Regions from separate parts of the Homo sapiens genome. Here regions 2 and 3 are each linked to region 1. The links come from fine-mapping of genetic effects on gene expression. Tissue or cell type: whole blood. Region 1 holds a variant in brackets; each other region holds the start of a gene. Each region is shown on its reference strand, or each on the opposite one. Region 1 has its middle 12 kb from the start of ZNF367. Region 2 holds the start of CTTN (cortactin). Region 3 holds the start of LINC00534 (long intergenic non-protein coding RNA 534).

What was found.
Region 2: CTTN starts here. The variant in region 1 is fine-mapped to the expression of CTTN in whole blood (TOPMed, PIP above 0.99).
Region 3: LINC00534 starts here. The variant in region 1 is fine-mapped to the expression of LINC00534 in whole blood (TOPMed, PIP above 0.99).

What each region holds. Positions count from the first base shown.
Region 1 is chr9:96,428,311-96,432,554 of GRCh38, forward strand. No RefSeq gene overlaps it. Among named protein-coding and RNA genes, the nearest start is that of ZNF367, 12 kb to the left of the region's middle. The variant A/C (reference allele first, on the strand shown) is at 2,327.
Region 2 is chr11:70,396,706-70,400,949 of GRCh38, forward strand. It overlaps CTTN (cortactin), which reads left to right and starts at 1,824. Exons shown (of 18, transcript NM_005231.4): 1 at 1,824-1,909. CTTN-DT (CTTN divergent transcript) reads right to left here and starts at 1,757. Exons shown (of 3, transcript NR_186321.1): 1 at 1,393-1,757. RefSeq lists silencers at 154-342, 1,440-1,489, 1,590-2,099, 2,681-2,750 and enhancers at 1,120-1,189, 4,038-4,244.
Region 3 is chr8:90,219,201-90,223,444 of GRCh38, forward strand. LINC00534 (long intergenic non-protein coding RNA 534) reads left to right here and starts at 2,288. Exons shown (of 4, transcript NR_051989.1): 1 at 2,288-2,546.

The DNA of each region.
Region 1 (4,244 bases):
CCACGCCTGTCTAATTTTGTATTTTTAGTAGAGACGGGGTCTCACCATGTTGGTCAGACTGGTCTCGAACTCCCAGCCTCAGGTGATCCACCCGCCTCGGCTTCCCAAAGTGCTGGGATTGCAGGCATGAGCCATCACCCCGGCCAGTTTCTGTCTTAGACGTCTCTCTTGATTTTTATGAATTGACATGATTTCTTGTTTGGTTGTGAATGCACACTGCCCTAGTTTTCAATAAGCCCATCATACATTTTCACCAGGTCCTCTATAGGTGCTTTTTCTATAGTGTTAACATCATCATCTTCACTGTCACTGTTATCACGATCACCTTGGTTCAGAACCAACTCAGATATTTCACCCTCAGTTAGTGAAGGAACAAGGCTCATTAAAAACGTCTTGAATATCCACTTCTTCCAGCTCTGACACAGACTACATATATATATGTATATATATGTATATATGTATATATGTATATATGTACATATGTATATATGTATATATGTACATATGTATATGTGTATATATGTATATATATGTATATGTGTATATATGTATATGTATGTATATTGTGTATATATGTGTATATATGTATATATATGTATATATATGTATATATGTATATATATGCATATACGTATATATGTATATATGTATATATGTATATATATGTATATATGTATATATATGTATATATGTATATATACGTATATATGTATATATGTATATATACGTATATATGTATATATGTATATATACGTATATATGTATATATGTATATATGTGTATATACGTATATATGTATATGTATGTATATGTGTGTATATATGTGTATATATGTATATATGTATATATGTGTATATATGTATATATGTATATATGTATGTGTGTGTATATATGTATATATGTATATGTATGTATATGTGTGTATATATGTATATGTATGTATATATGTGTATATATGTATGTATATATGTATATATGTATGTATATATGTATATATGTGTATATATATACACACACACACACACATATATATATATATATATTTTTTTTTTTTTGAGACGGAGTCATGCTCTGTCGCCCAAGCCGGAGTGCAGTGGAGCGATCTCGGCTCACTGCAACCTCCACCTCCTGGGTTCAAGCGATTCTCCTGCCTCAGCCTCCCAGGTAGCTGAGACTACAGGCATGTGCCACCACGCCCAGCTAATTTTTTTGTATTTTTAGTAGAGATGGGGTTTCACCATGTTGGCCAGGCTGGTCTCGAACTCCTGACCTCAGGCGATCCACCTGCCTTGGCCTCCCAAAGTGCTGGGATTACAGGCGTGAGCCACCGCACCCAGCCGACACAAACATTTTTGATGAAAATTTCAGCTGGGGAATGAGCAAAATCGGTATCAAGGAATAACAAAATCTTACAGTCCTCATTCAGTTTAGTTTCTTTGCAGTGAGCACATGCCACTAGTACAAAATGTTTGTGAAAACAATTAGAAAAGCTGTCCCTGATGATCCCTGCCTTTTTGTTAGCAGAACAATGGACTGGTAAAAAATTCACTCCTTGAAAACAGCAAGCTTTTTCACCTGCCTGTCACAGTAAGTTTACATTTATGTGTGCCTGCTGCATGAGCACATTGCAACATAGTTATTCTGTCCTTGGCATCCCTAATTCCTGTAGGGGCTGTCTCACCAGCTGTAGTCAATGTATTTCTGGGGTAATAACAGCAAAACAATAATGTTTCATCAGCATTATAGACTTGTTCTGCTGTCAGATTTTCATCAGCAATGACCTTGGCACACTAGTTAATTTCTCTGCTGCTTCATGATCACCACGAATCTTTAAAAAAATTTAATGCTGTGTCTTCTCTTAAATCTGCACCTAGCCTGCTGAATATTCACAGTTCCCTTCAATATTCAGTTCATCGTGATAGATCTTTGCTTGTCTCATGATAAGCAGGCCATTAAGTGGCATATGCTCACTGCAATGCTAATGGATGCACTCTTTCAATACATGATCAAGATCTTCATTTTCAGCTTTGCAGTGTTTTTCTATTTTTCATTAACTTCTATCCATCACTTTTAGCACAGAAGTTCAACAGTTTATCCATCTGTTTCTTCAGGTCACATATGGTGGTCATTCCAACACCATACTGTTCTGTAAGGCATTTCACACTTCCACCGCCATCCAATTTTTCCAACAGCATGACTTTCTGTGCTATAGATAAACATAAGTGCTTCTTTTTTTTCTTATCACTGTTACCCATAGGGGTATCTTTTTGGCATTTCCAACAATATCTTTAAACACAGAGCAGAGAATAAGCAAAAAAAAAAAAAA[A/C]CACAGTGAGTAATGCACATAGGTCTTGGCCCTATATGGGGCATTGTGGGGAACCTGCCATTGGTGCATCCAGCTGCATATGTACAATTTTATTACCCTTTACAGGCACGCTTGTTGGGGGGTAATCTGGGCATGCACAGAAAAGATATACCACAGCTGAAAGGGGCCGGGAGGGTCTTTTTTTCTGTTGGGGATGCTGAATAAACCATGTTGTGCAACTGCATTTTGACTGCAACCTATCACATGAGGTCAGGTGTGGAATGTTCCATTTCTGGCATCATGTGAGCACTCGAAAAGTTTCAGATTTTGGAGCATTTTCAAGTTTGGATTTTCAGGTTAGGGATGCTCAACCTGTAATTGATTTCTGTCATCTAATCATAGTAGTTAACACCTCCAATACAATGTTGAAAAGTAGTGGATAGTGAACATCCTTGCCTTATTTCCAATGCTAGAATTCCCTATAGTGTATCCCCATTAAATAAGAAACTAATTTTAGGAATAACATTCAATTATGTTAAGAACGTATTTTTTAATTCCTATCTTCCTGAGTGCTTTATGACGAATGTATGTGGATTTTTTTCCAAAGGCTTTCTCTGCTTTTAAGGAGGTAATAATATTATCTTTTTTCTTTTTTCGAGACGGAGTCTCGCTCTGTCGCCCAGGCTGGAGTGCAGTGGCTCAATCTCGGCTCACTGCCAGCTCTGCCTCCCGGGTTCATGCCATTCTCCTGCCTCAGCCTCCCGAGTAGCTGGGACTACAGGCGCCCACCACCAGGCCTGGCTAATTTTTTGTATTTTTAGTAGAGACGGGGTTTCACCGTGTTAGCAGGATGGTCTTGATCGTGATCCGCCTGTCTTGGCCTCCAAAAGTGCTGGGATTACAGTCGTGAGGCACCGCGCCCGACTGTTTTTTTTTTTGTTTTTTTTTTTTTTTTTTTTTTTTGAGAGGAGTCTTGCTCTGTCTCCCAGGCTGGACTGCAGTGGTGCAATCTCGGCTTACTGCAAGCTCCGCCTCCCGGGTTCACGCCATTCTCCCGCCTCAGCCTCCCGGGTAGCTGGGACTACAGGCGCCCACCACCACACCTGGCTAAATTTTTGTATTTTTAGTAGAAACGGGGTTTTAGTAGTTTTAGTAGAGACAGGGTTTCACCGTATTAGCCAGGATGGTCTCGATCTCCTGACCTCGTGATCTGCCCGCCTCAGCCTCCCAAAGTGCTGGGATTACAGGTGTGAGCCACCATGCCCGGCCAGCCAGGCTGGTCTTGAACTCCTGACCTCAGGTGATCCGCCTGCCTCAGCCTCCCAAAGTTCTAGGATTACAGGCTTGAGCCACAGTGCCTGGCCTATATAATTTTTAAAAAGCAATATGGACAAAAGAATAAGACCCAGAGGGGATACACACACATACACACACAAAAGGGTAGTCTCTAATTGGTAGGTGTCTAGTACATAGGGTCTATGGTTCAATCTGTCCCTTTTGGTATAAATTAGCATGCCAAGATACAGTTTGAGTCAGCCAATCCTCAAGAATTACATTTTTATCTGAGGTACATTTTAGAATCTAATGTAGTGTCATTAGACACATGTGCAAATTTTTTTTTTTTTGAGATGGAGTCTTGCTCTGTCACCCAAGCTGAAGTGCAAGGCATGAGCTCGGCTCACTGCAACCTTTGCCTCTTGGATTCAAGCCATTCTCCTGCCTCAGCCTCCTGAGTAGCTGGGATTACAGGTGTGCGCCACCACGTCCAGATAATATTTTGTATTTTTAGTAGAGACTTCTACTAAAGGCTTCACCATGTTAGCCAGGCTGGTCTTGAACTCCTGACCTCAAGAGATCTGTCTACCTTGGCCTCCAAAAGTGCTGGGATTACAGGCATGAGCCACTGTGCCGGGCCAAGATGTGCACGTATTTTGTGTGC
Region 2 (4,244 bases), not on the chromosome of region 1:
ATTGCCCAGGCTGGTCTTGAACTCCTGGGCTCAAGCAATCCTCTGGCCTTGCCGCTCAAAGTGCTGGTATTACAAGCCTGGCCAACAATCCTTGTGCACAGAAAATGCAAATTAGCTGTGTCCAGTTAAATGCAATTGACCTTTGCACTAGAGATAGAGCAGTTTTTGCAAATTCATTTCAGCATTCGTCTTCCGTTTTTTTTTTTTTTGACACAGGGTTTCTGTTGCCCGTGCCGGAGCGGTCCTTTTGCCTCAGCCTCCAGAATAGCTGGGACCACAGGTAAACGTCACCATGCCTGGCTAATTTTTTTCTTAAAAAAAATTTTTTTTTTTTGGTAGAGACAGGGTCTTGCCATGCTGCCCAGGCTGGTCTCAAATTCCTGACCTCCAGCAATCCTCCTGCCTTGGCCTCCCAAAGTGTTGGGATTACAGGCGCGAGGCACTGCATCTGGCCAAATTCTTTAAACAATTTGTAACAACTTATGATGTATTCATTATCGAGTTAAATAAAATATTTGACGTGTTCATTTTATATGTGTATGAAGGTCATGATTTTACCTTTAAAAAAATGGTCAACACCTGACATTTCCTTCCGCCACCCGCACTTCCAATTCATCCTCACATCTGACAGTTTAGCTTTCTAAATGCCTCTTGCATCTATCCACTTCTCCCCATCTTACCTGCCACCAGCGGTCTGCCCGAATTGGCTACATTAGGCTCTACCTGGCCCTTCTCCCATCCATCTTCCACACAGCAGCCAGAGTGATCTCATTACAATTCAAACTTCATTATGTCTTATTTATTTATTTAGCGATGGCGGGCGGGGGCGAGGGTCTCACTATGCTGACCAGGCTGGTCTCGAACTCCTGGCCTTAGGCGATCCTCCCATGTCAGCCTCCCAAAGTGTTATGATTACAGGCGTGGGCCACTGCGCCTGGCCCAAACTTCATGATGTCTCTTATCAGCTTAACTTCCTCCGAGGACTTCCCGTGTCTCCCAGAATAAAGACCGAGGTCTTCGCTGTGCTCTATCGGCCTCTGCATGACCTGGCCCCTCTCACACCACAGCTCCGCTGCACCACTAGCCCTCTACCATGCTGAGCTGAGCCTCCTCCAGTTCCCCTGCTGCAAGACCGTTCCTGCCTTGGGACCTCTGTTGGCCCTGCTGTTGGAACCTGCTGTTGGCCTGCCTGGAAAATTCTTCCCTCCTTACCTTGTTTACTCTTATAGGGCCTTCACATCTTGGCTAACATGTGAATCGCCCAAAGAAACCTCTGGTCTCCCAGGGGTTCAGGTCCTACCGTCTCCCCAATACGATGTTATGAAACTCTCACTTCTTGGCATTTATCTCATTTCCCAGGTGAGTACCCATGTGGTTTAACGCTTGACTCACCTTCTAGGCTGCTATGTCCCTGTGGCCGGGGCTCGCGTCCCTGGCACGCATGTGGCCCTTTCTTGGAGGGGAGGTGCATGGTGAGCGGACGAGGACGGCTGAGGGCGCGCGCGGAGGGAGGATGGAGAGATGAAGAGGCTCCCCGCTCCCGGACTCAGGGCACGTGCGTCTCCTCGGCTGGCTTCCTTCCCCCGGCCCCGGGCAGCGCCGCGGATCCTGAGACCCCGCCGCGGGCTGTGTGCTGCTCAGCGCCCATCCTCTGCGCGCGCAACGCTACTTCCGGGCGAGCTCTGCAGACTCGCCACAGGCCGGGCTAGCGCTTAGCCAGCTGCGGGCGGACCCCCGGGACTCTTGCGGGCCAAGACGCGGGAGGAGGCGGGGCAGGGGGCGGGGTCGCGCGGGGACCCGGATGCGGCCCCGCCCCCGCCCTCGGAACCGGAAGTAGAGCCTGGTGCCTGGGAGCGGCTGGCGCGGCGGAATCCAGGGCCGACCCGGGCCGGACCGACCCCAGGCGGCGGTGAGCGAGCGCGGCGTCCGCCCGGGGTGCAGGCCGGGCTCTGCTTCTTCCCTCCTGTGGCGTCGCCTGGCCGCGAAAGGGGAAGGAAGCGGCGGCCGCAGCGGTCTCACCGCTCTTCCGCTTGCGGTTTCGGGGGCCGGGGCAGAGTGGCGAGGCTTTCCCGGCCTGGGGCGGGGCAGGGCGAGGGCCGGGGGTCCGCGAGGGCCACGAGGACGGGTCTGGGCCCAAGGAGGCCGGGCAGGGGGCAAGGGGGCACGGAGGGCTTGGGGCTGGGGTCCGCGGAGGAAGGTTAGAAAGGGGCCAAATTGGGGTATCAGCTCTGAGGGGAGGGTCCCTGGGCGCCGGGGGGCTCCAGGGCAGGAGAGGGGCCAGGCTGGGAGGGGTCTTGGGTCCGAGGGAATAGGAGAGGGGGATGGGCTCCGAGGGGGAGGGTATTAGGGCCCGAGGGAGAGGGGCTGGGCCTGTGGGGTTCGGGGGTCTGAGCGGAGGGGGCCGGGGTTCGAGGGGCCAAGGAAGGTGGGTGTGGGGGGTCTCAAGGAAAGGGCGAGGGGTCTGAGAGGGAGGTGTCTGGGTGCAGAGGGAAAGGGATGAGGTCCGAGGGGAGGAGATTGGGGTCTGACGGGAAGGGGTCCAGGCGCAGAGCTACTGGGATGGGGTCCGAGGGAAGGGAATTGGGGTTCGAGGGGAAGGGGTCGGGGCTCGGAGGAAAGGTATAGGGTCCGAGGGGAGGGGATTGGGGCTCCAGGGGAAGGGATCCAGGCGCAGGGAAAAGGGATGGGGTCCGCGGGGTCAAGGCGGTTGGGGTGCGCGACTTTGAGGGGCTCGCTGTGGGACGTGGCGGAGCAGCTGGGGATCCGCCCGGCCTGCACCTGAGCGGAGGTTTTGCAATCAGGTCAGTGGAGGCAGCGAGGCGCGGCTGCAGCTAGTCGTGAGGCTCTAAATTTGGAACCGTCCCTCCTTCGGGGTGTGTTTAAAATCACCAGAACGGTGCTTTGGGGCTTTCTGTTACGTTTCCATCACCTGGATAGTCTAAGGGATGCCTGATCCCTGAAGCTGGAAGGCCTTGGGTGAGAAGGGACAGGGCTTCCTCCCGCTGGAATCTGTGGACGTTTGGGGCCCCTTGGGGAGGAATTCATTTTCTGCTGAAGGAAGCTCCGGAGGCATCCGGTGAGCGCTCCCTGGAATCCCATGCGCTCCCTTTGGGCTCAGTGTTGACTTGGCTGCGCAGGCTCTGTCGGGGGGACTTCACCCACTAGGTCCTTCAGGCATGATCCAGCCCTCAAGCCCGGCCGGGCCCAAGGCCGTGGCGCAGGAGGGGCTGGCCGCCTGCCCCTGTCTCCATTCACGTGTTTGACCGTGTGGGTGAGTCACTGGCTCCAGAGCACTGAGTCAGTCCTGTTTCTCCTCTGGTTAGAGAAGTATTCGCCAGATACTCAAGGAACAAGGAAGAGTCTTTTAAGTGGGACTCAATAAAAAGTTGGGGAGGCAGGGTTGTTTTGATATTAGGTCCCCTAGAACTAGAAGCTAACCTTCTGCTATATCTTACTGAAAAGAAATTTCTTTTGACCTGGGGCAGGGGTGCGGTGGCTCACACCTGTAATCCCTGCACTTTGGGAGGTCAAGGTGAGAGGATCGTTTGAGGCCAGGAGTTCCAGACTAGCCTGGGCAACACAGGGAGACCTTGTGTCTACAAAAAAAGAAATTCGCTGGGCATGTTGGCTTGCACCTGTTGTCCTAGCTACTTGGGGCGCTGAGGCAGAGGATCTCAAGCCCAGGAGTTGGAGGCTGCATTGAGCTCGATCGCACCACTGTACTCCAGCCTGGGTGACAGAGCGAGACCCTGTCACCCAGGCTGGAGTGCAGAGGCTCTTCACAGGTGCCATCTAGCACACTGCAACCTTGAACTGCTGGCCTTAAGCGATCCTCCCACCTCAGCCTCCCAAGTAGCTGGGACTGCAGGCCCAGCTAAAGCTGACTTTTAATTGTAGCATTTTGATGGACTTGTTTTTAAAACACTTTTAAAATGACAGCACACATAATCGGCAATTCAGATCTTCAGTCTGTGCCACGCAGTAGGTGCTCAGAAAAGGTGTCCTGAGAGTGTGAATTGCTGTGAGCGCTGGTTGCTGCCTTGTGTTGCAGTATTCCCATGGCCTGGGCCAGCCAAGAGCAGGGGACTGTGCTCCAGGAGCAGGCTTGGCTTTCACTGTGGCCCAGGCCCACCCCATCTGCTCACGCACTGCTTTGAGTAAACGGAGTAAATGTTGGGGGCGGGGTTTCCCTTGAGTAAGTGTGGTGTAGGGAGTGTGCCTGTGATGGTGATTTTGGCTACGCA
Region 3 (4,244 bases), not on the chromosome of region 1:
GTAGCATCTATCTGTAAGTCTGTTCTTTTTATAGTTGAATATATCCGTTCATATGGACATACCATATTTTGCTTCTCCATTAACAAGTTGATAGACATTTCAGTAGTCTCCAAATTTTGGCTATTATGAATGATGCTGTTACGAACATTCATGCACAAGTCTTTGTCTGGACACAGATTCTCATTTTTCTTGAGTATAGATCTAAGAGTGAAATTACTGGGTTATATAGTAAATAATAATTTTTGAGTAAACGTAGCATTTCACATTCCCACCAGCAATGCATGAGAGTTCCAGTTCTTACATTCTCGTCAGTCCTTGTTATTATTAGTCTTTGTTTAGAGTGGGTTCTAAGTATATCTCTTTGTTGTTTTAATGTTAAATACACCCTTTCGAACTAGTAAAATCTTTGAGAAACTGTGACTCCTCCCTAGCTCTCTGGACTCCCAAAGCTTTAATCCACTGTTTAGTGTTCTTTTAACAATTATGATGTGGCTATAATTTATTCATTGATCAATTCATTCATTGATTCATTAACTCAACAGTGATAACTGAACATCTGCAATAGGTCAAGCGATATTCCAGGAATAAAAAACTGAATTAAATTGATTCCTGCTCTCAAGGACTTGACTAACCTAATTGGAAACATGGACCTAGACAGTAAGAATTAAAATACAATGTGGTAGATGCAAATAAAGTACAAAATGTTATTCAAGTTCTGATCTAGTCAAATCTTAATATGTCAAGGGCTTTCAGTTGCCATTTTCCTTGTCATGAGAACATCTTTCTAACATGCTCAGGGTTGATTTCTAATGGTAAGAGAATGAGGTTGGAATGAGATAGGAGCTGACTTCCAGTCAACACTGTGGGCTCCACATATCACTTTTCTTTAGTCCATTATCAGTGCTATTATCTAGTTCAGAACTTGATATGCTCAAAACACCCTAGTTTCTGTTCTTGCATCTTAAAGTAGAAAGATCAGATGCTATTTCCATTAGTTGTCCATCTAAGGATACCATATAGCTATTCCCTTGATAGATTTAGTTTCACCACCTTACATTGAATTTTTCTTAAGAAGGAAGCAACTAAAATAAACAAGAAGTTCAATCCTGAGATTCTGAGGGCAATGGCATTTGCAAGCAATTTGTGGCAGGTAAGAGAGCAGTCCATAAAGTACTTCCTCCTAGGATGTTCTTGTGATTTCTGCTCTAATATATCTCCCACCCCCAAAATGCATGCAAGTGCCTACACACACACACACACACACACACACTGCCACCACCTTCTCCACTTCCCTAAACCCAATGAATGACTAACTTGCACAACATTCATCCACAGATTTTAAATATGAATACAAAGAAGGGATTCTAGTGATTGATACTTTTCCTGACCTTTAGATAACAGTTAACTAAACCATTTTAAGCTGATGTTGACATAGCCTATTAAATATCTCTACAGCAGAAATTCTATAATCTGCATTGTTCAGAAGTCCTGAAGTCTATGATTTAATGTAAAAATAGACCAGAAATCTGAAGAATTTATACAATTTATATTTATAACACAGTTGACTTAGTTGAATGTGTCAGAACACAATATGTGTACATATAAAATTTTTGGTGAAGTATGCCATAAAATTATAATTTGTTCATTAATTTTACCAGTTCACAAACATTTCTTAGGTATGGGTAATATGTCAGGCTATATGCTAGTTATTGTGGATACATGGATAAGAAAAAGACAATCCTCATCTTAAAGGAACAAACTCATTGGAGATAGACCTGTAAACAAAGAATTACCACACACAGTAATAAACATAGGGGAAAAAGAAAAATTAATCATCAGGATAGGAATGAAGGAGTTTTAGGGAAGACTTCCAAAGAAATAGGTTTTTGAACTGTGTCTTAAATATTTGCTACTCACAAAGTGTGGTTTTCAAACTGGGGGTATTCGCCTTTTCCAGAAGCCTGTTAGAACTTCAGAATCTCAGATCCCATTCAGGACATACCAAATCAGGATCTCTATTTTAATAAGATCTCTGGTCATTTGTATGACATTAAATTTTAAGAAGGTTTGCTTTAAAGGATGGTGAAGAATTCCCAAGTAGGTTTGAAGGAAAGGAAAAATATTCTCCAGAAGTGGGAACGATACTTGTAAAGGGACTATCTTGGACAAGATTCTCCTCAGAAGCACACTCTGAGGCAAAGAGTTGAGTACAGCAGTTTATTTGGGAGGAAACACTAGTAGGGGAGTGGGAAGTGAGATAAGGAAGGGAAGAATGACTGTAAAGAGTGTCTTTTCTGGCAGATTACTTCTGTGAGCAACTGGGTCTCTCAGTTCTTTGGGAGCACCCTGGGAAACAGTGTGGCTATGACTTGGAGCTGCTCACCAGTTCCAGTCATTCTGTGGTTGAGAGCTGCTCCCTATGGATGTTAATTCTTCTCTATTTTAGATTTTCCACAGGTGTGGGCCCCATTAGCTCTGGCCACCTGAGAAAGCCCTCAGGCAAAGAGTCGCAGGTGAAAGCCAGCAGTTAGAGGTTCACAGAAATGGTGAGTGCTGAACGGATATGGGTGGGTATCAATGATGGCTGCTATAGAGATCAAGGCATGAAACGGGACTACAAGGTATACTCAAGGAATTGCTGGTTGTCTAGCATTCTGGGAGTGTAGGGAATAAGTGTGGAAGTATCAGGATCTAAGGGTGTCTAGATACATAACAGCCAAATCATGAAGGGCCGTGTGAGGAAGACATGCTAAGGAAGTTGGAACTTATTTTGCGGGCCACTAAATATTTAAAAAATAGAGTGTCATAGTAGAAATTTCATCTTTGGAAAGATTATTTTGCAGTCTAGAGGGTGGGACTTCAGTGAGACTGAAGACAGAGAGGCCAGTTAAGAACTCTATCATCTTGGATACAGCTTTTGTAGTTACGGTATCACCATTAGCTGACTGGATTAATTAATATCTCTATTGAGCTTCTGCTGTGTTTGCAGCATTTTGCAGGTAGCTGTGTGAGGTATATCAGGTATTTTCTTTAATTAATGAAAATAATCTGTTTAAAGTCTATTCAATATATTGGTGCTATTGCTGTATGTTAGTAAGTGTTGGTGTGTTTAAATTTTACATGATGTGTATATATCACAGGTCTTGAGTACGCTAGCTGATACCTAGTATCATTCTCTAAAAAACGACCAATAGTATTTTTCTTTTTCCTGAGAGCACAGGATGAAATTTAAGCTAATAATTTTCTTTTATACCAAAAAATTACCTTTATACAAATTTTTTAATACCAAAAGTTCCCATTCATTGGGAACTATATGTAGGTCCCCAGTGAATGAATATATTAATTATTCACCTTGCCCATGGACACTAGTCACATTTTATTTGCGACCATTGCCACATCTCATAGAATAGGAATTTCTTGATTATTGCTATATTCACTCATATCAAAGTGTTGCCTTCCATTTCTCTTAGCTAAGATAGGCAGAAAACTTTTTACTAAGCCAGATAAATAATGGCTCATGTACTAATCCTTGTGAAATTAAACAAAAAAATCTGTGAAATTAAAAAAAATTATGAAATTAAAAAAAAATGGAAAGAAATTCCTGCCATGTCACTTACTATCCCTAATCTTAATTTCAGTGTTGTATAGATGTGTGCTTCTAAAATGTCGTGTTTTTCACACTTCGTTTCAATCCTTGAACTCTATTGAAAAGCTTCATTATATATTCTCCATTACTGATCTCGTTATAAAAATTTGATGTTGCTTAAAATAACCATTTGCTTTATTAAGCCAAGCTTTGTTTACTTCTGTATCTGTTGAGATTAACCTCCCATCACCATCCTTATACATGTACCCTTTGATTATTCTCAGTATTGATATCTTGGTCTTCCAAGAGCTGTAAGTTTTTAATTCACAAAAGGAAGGAGGTTCTAGGATTCAACTAATGTGATGACTAGATTTGTATATGGTATTAAAGTATTAAAGGAGAGAATTTCTTCGCCCATAGCTTATCATTTATTTGAATGCAGAGAAAATTTACTGGGGAGATTCAAAATGATAAATTTGTCTATGTGGAATTCAATAAGCAAAATGCTGAAATAGAGTCTAAATCTTCCATCATCACTAAAGCTGTTTGATAAGAAATTTATCTCCTCTTGTCTGCTTTAGCTTGATCTAAGTTAAGTACTAATGAATCATGACCCAGTCTGTGTTCCTTTGTCCTCACATTTTACTTGCTGTGGCAA